Linked DNA regions of Homo sapiens. The protein of the gene in region 1 purifies or fractionates together with the protein of each later gene. This does not show direct contact. Each region holds a gene or a part of one and is shown on either strand. Other genes may lie near its edges.

Region 1 (3,813 bases):
CCCTCAGGACCATTTCTGGGCTTCCTGGCACTAAATCATCACAGCCCCACCCTCACAGCTTGGCTGAGGACCAGGCACCCTCACTGCCTAAGGCACAGGTCCTCTTGTAAAGATCCTGGCTTTCCTACGCCTTCCCACCTAGTTTCAGGCCATGCTGGTGGCTTCTGGCTCCTGGTCGTGCCCTCTGCATCCATTTGTTGGGCATCCACCCTTGATCCTTCTCTCACGCCCTCAGCCCCACCGATGGGAGCCACCACTCCATCCACATTATCCACAGGGCTGGCTGAGCTGACTTCCTCTGAGACAGGGCTGGCATCTGCCTCACTCTGTTCTGAGAAGGTGATCCAGGCTCCCAGGGAACACAGACACCTAAATCAGAGTCAGCCCTGGCCTGGCTTCGGACCTTTCTCACCCTGACAGTTGTAAACACACAGGAGGCCAGGGGAGGAGATGCTCAGATCATCTACCCTGGCCCTGCCTCTCAAGATACTCCCCTGAGCTACATCAGGAGCTGCTGTTTCTGAGCCATTTGCTCAGCAGCCCTTGGTCACTGGACAGCCTTGCTTAACTGGAAGATGCCTGATTTAAGAGCACACGTGCTCACTCTGACCTATATCCTGATCCCCTGGCCCTCCCCCTCCGCAGTGGCGCGCGTCACCACCAGCTCACAGGCTTGAGCTGTCATGAAATCCTGGGCAGAATCCAGTCCAGAGAAAGCGTGGAGAGGACAGTGGCCCAGAGCTGCTTTCAGGTGCTCCATGGACGGCCATCGTGATCAGGGACACTGCCTTCTCGCAGCGGGAATGCATTTCATTTGAGAGCATGGATTCTGGAGGCAGACACTGGATCCAAAGCCACCTCTACCACCTATTGGCTGTGGGACCCTGGACGAACTACTTTACCTCTGTGCCTCATTTATCTCAGCTGGGAAACAGGATGATAATAATAGCACAGGCTCAGCATCCCAAATCCAAAAATTCCCAAATCCCAAATCCTCCAGAATCTGAAACTTTCTGAGTCCTGACATGACACTCCAAGGAAATGCTCATTGCAACATTTTGGATTTCAGATTTTCAGATGTGGGATATTCAACTGGCAAGTATCATGCAAATATTCCAAAATCTGAAAACATCTGAACTCTGAAATGCTTCTGGTCACAAGCATTTTGGAAACAGGATGCTCAACCTGTATCCACGTGACAGGGCTGCTGTAAGTGTGGATACAGGCAATGCATGTAAAGCATCTGGAGCAGTGCCTGGCACACGTGGGGAGCCCGTCATATGCTGCCGCGGCTGCTGCTAATGACAACAGGGACAACTACGATGAGATTACAGAGGCAGGGGACGGGTGCAGCTCCACGGTTAACAATGCTACCAGGTGTCCCCAGCTCACAAAGCCTGTCCATGGTCCCATTTTCCACACATGGAACCTGGCCCAGAGAGCAACCGCCCACAGTCCCACTCCTAGGAAGCAGGGTAGCCAGGAACTGAATGCAGGTCTGTGAACCTAAAACGAATACTCTTTTAACCTCTGCCACTAAAATTGCATCCAATTTTCAAGGGGAAGGAGAAATATGGTTTCCCAGCACCTACTACGCCTTTGCACTGCAATTGTCAGCTGGACAAGAAAGAGCATCTGAATATCTGATTTAAAGGAAAAGGCTGCTTTCTCTTTGGGACTAATAACAACGAAGGCTTTTTTGGCTCTGCAAGTTTGCTGTCCTCTCGCCAGTGCTGTGGACTGGGGCTTTCTCAGAGTAGTGCTGCTTTCAGCGAAGCAGCTGTTTGGGGTGGCCCCTTTGTTTCTTATTACCTACGCTATGACCACAGCTCCACACTGACATGCGATGGCGGCATCAGTTGACATCTATTTTCTTGTTAACAGAACACAAGTGGCTCCTTATTAAGCGCCCCCAGAGAAGATTCTGCCATAAAAATTTCATAAAGCCCAAGCGCCTCCCGAAATGTAAACTGGCCCGCTCAACTTTCCCTTGGAAATCGCTGGTGAGATCTGCTTTGTCGGCCAGTGTGCGTGTTCCACCTATGGTCACTTTAGGCCGCTAAAAGCAAGAAACCAATCAAGCATCCCACTAGAGTCGACAAACCAAACCCTGTCTCATGTGCACCCCTTGGTCTGAGGATGGAAAAGCAGCTTCCCTTCACATTTACACAGTGACCTCGGTACGAGTCATAGGACAACGTTTTGAGGGACAGAAGGAAGTCTCTTTAGTTGCTCTTCCTTTTTTGCTAAGCCACTGAAGCTGGCTGTGGCTTAGATGACAGGAATGACTCTTACCTGTGCGGTGAAGAAGGCTGGGGTGAGGGATCCCGAGGGGAGGGCTGGGCTGTTGAGGGCGATGGAGCCGATGTCGGTGCCGGAGAGCACCAGCGGGGGCGCTGAGATTTCCAAGCCTTTGGGTTTTTTGGCCTTTGGGGGAAGAGATGGAGACTTGGTCTTGGAGCCCGATGACAGGTTCAAGGGCTCCAGGGAATCGGAGTCATGGCAGGCGGCCTCCAGGAAGAGGCTTCTGTGTTCAGAAGGGAGGGGTGAGTTGGGGGACAGGGACGGGGACCGAGATGAGAAGGGTGAGGCGGATGAAATACTGGCAGCGTTTGGCAACATTAAAGAGGAGATCTTGGCCGAGACGGACGAGGCCAGGAAGGCGGACGCCGCCGCAGCCTCTGACGTGGAAGGCAGGGACACCACCGGCCTGGTGACGTGCTTGTCGGTTTTATTGGTCACAAACCTGATCACAGTCCTGACTTCTTCCACGGGGGGGCTGTCTTCGGGCGGCTCCTCCAGCTTCTCCGTCTTGATGGCCTTGAAGGCGTCTGGTGGGTTCTGCAGGGAATTAATGGTGAAGGACGAGTACAGGCCTGAGTGGATGTATTCGTTGCGGCTCGTGCTTCTGAGGGCGGCCAGGCCGTGTTTGTGGGCCTCGCGGCCCTCCGGAGACGCCTTGCAGTCGCTGTCCTGCAGCAGAAGGCTCTCCCGGCTGATCTCCACCGCGTGAGGATCCATCTTCAGGATCTCCGGGAAAGAGACAAACTTGTACACAAACTTCTGCCCGATCACCTTCTTGATGATGTTCTGCAAATACAAAAGTAGACGTTGAAAATCTGAGTGCACCCGAGAAACCATGTAAGAGCTCATGATAATGGTAAATGTCGCTGGCAGAAGCACCAAAATGTTCCTGATTTACATTCTTGGCTAAGGAAAAGTGGAAGGAGGAATGAAGTTGGAAGTAGAATTAGATGTGCATTCCAGTTCTGCCATTACTAGATCTTTGTGATCTTTGGCAAATTAAGTGCCACTTTGAGTTTCCTCGTCTGTAAAGTAAGGAAGATGATGATGATGATGATGATTTCTTAGACAGGGTCTCACTCTGTCGCACAGGCTGGAGTGCAGTGGCACGAACATGGCTCACTGCAGCCTCAACCTCCTGGACTCAAGCAATCCTCCTGCCTCCACCTCCTGAGTGGCTGGGACTACAGGTACATGCCACCACACCCTGCTAATTTTTACATTTTTATTTTTTGTGGAGACAGCATCTCACTTGGTTGCTCAGGCTGGTCTCAAACTCCTGGACTCAAGCAATCCCCCAACCTTGGCCGAGTGAGGATTATTCTATGTAATAACATAGTAACAGCTGCCATTTATGAAGCCTTTACTATGTGGATGGGATTATTCATATCTTATCTCATACAATCTGAACAGCAATCCTAAAAGGAAGGTGTTGTGACTCCTATTTTAAAAATTTGGAAAATAAGCTTAGAGCACTTCCCTAACTCACATGACCACCTGCTAGGAAGT
Region 2 (3,813 bases), on another chromosome or scaffold:
AAGGGCAGGCAGGGTCACCTGGGCATCGTGCAGCTGGGCTTCTGTGCTGCTCAGCTCCTTGCTAAGACGGATGGTTTTGGACTCAGCCTCGTTCAGCGCCCCAGACACATTCTCCAGTTCAGCCTGCAGGGAAGGGACGGGAATGAAGCCCTCCAATCGTGGCTTCCACCCAGTGACCCCATCTGCCTCAACTCTCTACCACACTGGCAGGAATGTGAAATGTTACAGCTGCCGTGGAAAACAGTCTGGCAGATCCACAGATGCTTAAACATAGGGTTCCCACATGACCCAACAATCCCGCTCCTAGGTGCATACCCAAAAGAAATGAACGCATAGGTCTATGCAGAAACTCGTACCGGAATGTTCTCAGTGGCATTACTCACCATCGCCAAGAGGCGGGAACAGCCCCAATGTCCATCAATAAACGAATGGATAAACAAATGTGGAATATCCATACAACGGGCATTATTCGGCAATAGAAAGGTATATGGATCTATTGCGTGCTGTTGTTTTTTGGGGTTTTTTTGAGACAGAGTTTCACTCTTGTTGCCCAGGCTAGAGCGCAATGGTGCAATCTCGGCTCACTGCAACCTCCGCCTCCCAGGTGCAAGTGATTCTCCTGCCTTAGCCTCCCAAGTAGCTAGGATTACAGGCATGCGCCACCACACCCGGCTAATTTTGTATTTTTAGTAGAGACGAAGTTTCACCATGTTGGTCAGGCAGCTGGTCTTGAACTCCTGACCTCAGGTGACCCACCCGCCTCCGCTGCCAAAGTGCTGGGATTACAGGCATGAGCCACTGCACCCAGCTGGTGTTTTAAAAATTAAAAAATAAAAAAGGAATTATGCTACGAGCTGCAACACAGATGAATCTTGAAACCGTTATGTTAAGTAAAAGAAGGCAGCCACAAAGGCCACCCATATATAGTAGGATTCCATTTATATAAGATCTCCAGAATGGGAGATCAGTAAAGACAGAAAGGAGATTAGTGGTTCCCTGGGTGGGGTGGGGGAGAAGTGGGGGATGATAGCTAAAGGGTATAGGATTTTCTTTTTGGGATAATGAAAATGGTCCAAAATTAGATTATGGTGATGGCCATACCACTCTGTGAATATACCAAAATCCATTGAATTGCACATCTTAAATGAGTGAATTATTATTATTATTATTGGAGATGGAGTTTCACTCTCGCTGCCCAGGCTGGAACGCAATGGCGCGGTCTCAGCTCATCACAACCTCTGCCTCCCGGGTTCAAGTGATTCTCCTGCCTCAGCCTCTCGAGTAGCTGGGATTACAGGCATGCGCCATCACGCCCGGCTAATTTTGTGTTTTTTTTTTTTTTTTTTTAGTAGAGACAGGGTTTCTCCATGTTGGTGAGGCCGGTCTCGAACTTCTGACTTCAGGTGATCTGCCCGCCTCGGCCTCCCAAAGTACTGGGTATTATTATTATTATTTTGAGACAGGATCTCACTTTGTTGCCCAGGCTAGAGTGCAGTGGCACAATCACAGCTCATTGCAGCCTCGACCTCCCAGGCTCAAGGGATCCTCCTTCCTCAGTCCCCTGAGTAGCTGGGACTACAGGCACATGCCAGCATACCTGGCTAATTAAAATTTTTTTTTTTCTGAAGATGGGGTCTCACTATGTTGCCCAGGCTGGTCTCGAACTCCTGGGCTCAAGCAATCCTCCTGCCTTGGCCTCCCAAGTGCTAGAATTACAGACATGAGCCACTGTGCCCAGACTTGTACATGATTATGTTGGAAGAGCCAAACGAGACAATTGGTTTGATATGGACCAAATAGAAGCCCAGAGAGGGCAGGCATGTCACCAAGGTCACACAGCAGAAACCTCTGCCCTGCCCACCCCACTTACCTGGGCTCGCTGCAGCTTCTCAGCAGCCTCCGCTCGTGCCCTCTCCCCATCACCAGCCCGGCCCTGCACCTCCTGCAGCTGTAACTCCAGGCGGCGCCTCCGCTGCTCACCCTCCTGACGTGCAGTCTGCAGGCTGCTCAGTTCTGCCCGCAGCTCGGACACCTCGGCCTCCAGGGCCAGCCGGGTCTTCTCCCATGCACCTTTGCCCTGGTGTGGGAAGGAGATGAGCAAAGATCTATGAGGCCTTTCCTGGACCAGGCCAGGCACACTCCCATCTCAGGGCCTTTGCACTGGCTGTTCCCTCTGCCTGGAACACACTTCTCCCAGTGAACAAATAGCTCACCCCTCACTCCCAATTTTTTTTTTTTTTTTGAGACAGTGCTTCAGTCTTGTTGCCCAAGCTGGAGTGCAAAGGCACGATCTCTGCTCACTGCAACCTCCGCCTCCCAGGTTCAAGTGATTCTCCTGTCTCAGCCTCCCAAGTAGCTAGGATTACAGGCGCCCACCACCACGCCCGGCTAATTTTTTGTGTTTTTAGTAGAGATGGGATTTTGCCATGTTGGCCAGGCTGGTCTTGAACTCCTGACCTCAGGTGATCCACCCACCTCAGCCTCCCACAGTGCTGGGATTACAGCCATGAGCCACCACGTCTGGCCCATTTTTGTTTGTTTGTTTGTTTTTTGAGACAGAGTCTTGCTCTGTCACCCAGGCTGGAGTGGAATGGTACAATCTTGACTCACTTCAACCTCTGCTTCTTGGGTTCAAGTGATTCTCCTGCCTCAGCCTCTCAAGTAGCTGGGACTATAGGCGTGTGTGCCACCACGCCCAGCTAGTTTTTGTATTTTTAGTAGAGATGGGGTTTCACCATGTTGCCCAGGCTGGTCTCGAACTCCTGGCCTCAAGTGATCTGCCTGCCTCAGCCTCCCAAAGTTACAGGCAAGAGCCACCATGCCCGGCCACTCCCTCAGTTTTTTACCCTGATGTCACCTTCTCGCAGAATACCTCCACAGCCTCTCTACTTAAAAACTCACCCGCCTTAGAATTCTGATCCCTTTTTCCTGTTCATTATGGCCCCATAGCACTTATCACCCCAATATAAACTGAAAGTGTTTATATTGTTTACCCTCTGCCTCTCTCACTAAAAGGAAAGCTCCACAAGGGAAGGCAGTGCTGGTTGTTGGGTTCATGGCTGGTTCCCCAGCAATGCTCCTGGAACATAGTCCACACCCCATTAATGCTTGCTGAATGAAAGATGCACATGAATGCGTGAGGAAAGGGGCCCAGGGAGATGAGCTAGCCTAGAACCAGCCAGCGGTACCTCCTCCAACCCCGCGTCCTGCCCTGCCCTCCCCGTGGCCCCCCTGCCCTGTCCCCCTGCCCCAACCCACCCTCCGGGCCTGCTCCAGCTGCTCCGCCAGCTCCCCCAGGGCCTGGCCGTGGCGCTGCCTCAGCTCCTGCACTGCCGCCTCGTGGATGCGAGTCTCCTCCTCCAGAGTCTTCTTCAGCTCCGTCACCTCCTGTTCCCTCTTGGACCTTTATTGGGGGAAAGGAGAGAGGATGGGAATTTCAGAGCAGAGGAAGGCAGGGGCTTTGGGGGAGCTGGTTGTTTCTCCTTTTCATGTTTCCTTAAAATATGAGGGCCTCATGTTATGCTCCTCAGGAGATCTGGGTGGTGATGCTGTGGAAGGAGTGTGGCTTTAAGGGTGAACTCCTATTCACCTTTCAAAACCCTTTTCCAAAAGGCCCTTCCTCAGGAAAGTCTTCCTGGATCTCCCATAGACTTGGTTTAGGGGTCTTCACTTATCACCCACAGTGCCCCGTGTTACTCCGCTAAAGCACCCCTTGTTCTGGGTTGAGATTGTCTTTGCCTGAATCTGCCTCCCCTGAGACTGGAAGTTCCCAAGGGTAACACCTGGGTCTGACCCATCTCTGTCCCCAGCTTG

What was found.
Region 2: the proteins of ELK3 (region 1) and MYH14 purify together in Homo sapiens (affinity purification with mass spectrometry; one large-scale study listed by BioGRID and IntAct). This does not show direct contact.

The regions. Positions count from the first base shown.
Region 1 is NC_000012.12:96,246,217-96,250,029, reverse strand, and holds part of ELK3 (ETS domain-containing protein Elk-3), read right to left. Parts: intron 3,091-3,813; coding exon 2,296-3,090; intron 1-2,295. UniProt on the Homo sapiens protein: May be a negative regulator of transcription, but can activate transcription when coexpressed with Ras, Src or Mos. Forms a ternary complex with the serum response factor and the ETS and SRF motifs of the Fos serum response element.
Region 2 is NC_000019.10:50,276,347-50,280,159, reverse strand, and holds part of MYH14 (myosin-14), read right to left. Parts: intron 3,404-3,813; coding exon 3,259-3,403; intron 2,078-3,258; coding exon 1,871-2,077; intron 124-1,870; coding exon 19-123; intron 1-18. UniProt on the Homo sapiens protein: Cellular myosin that appears to play a role in cytokinesis, cell shape, and specialized functions such as secretion and capping.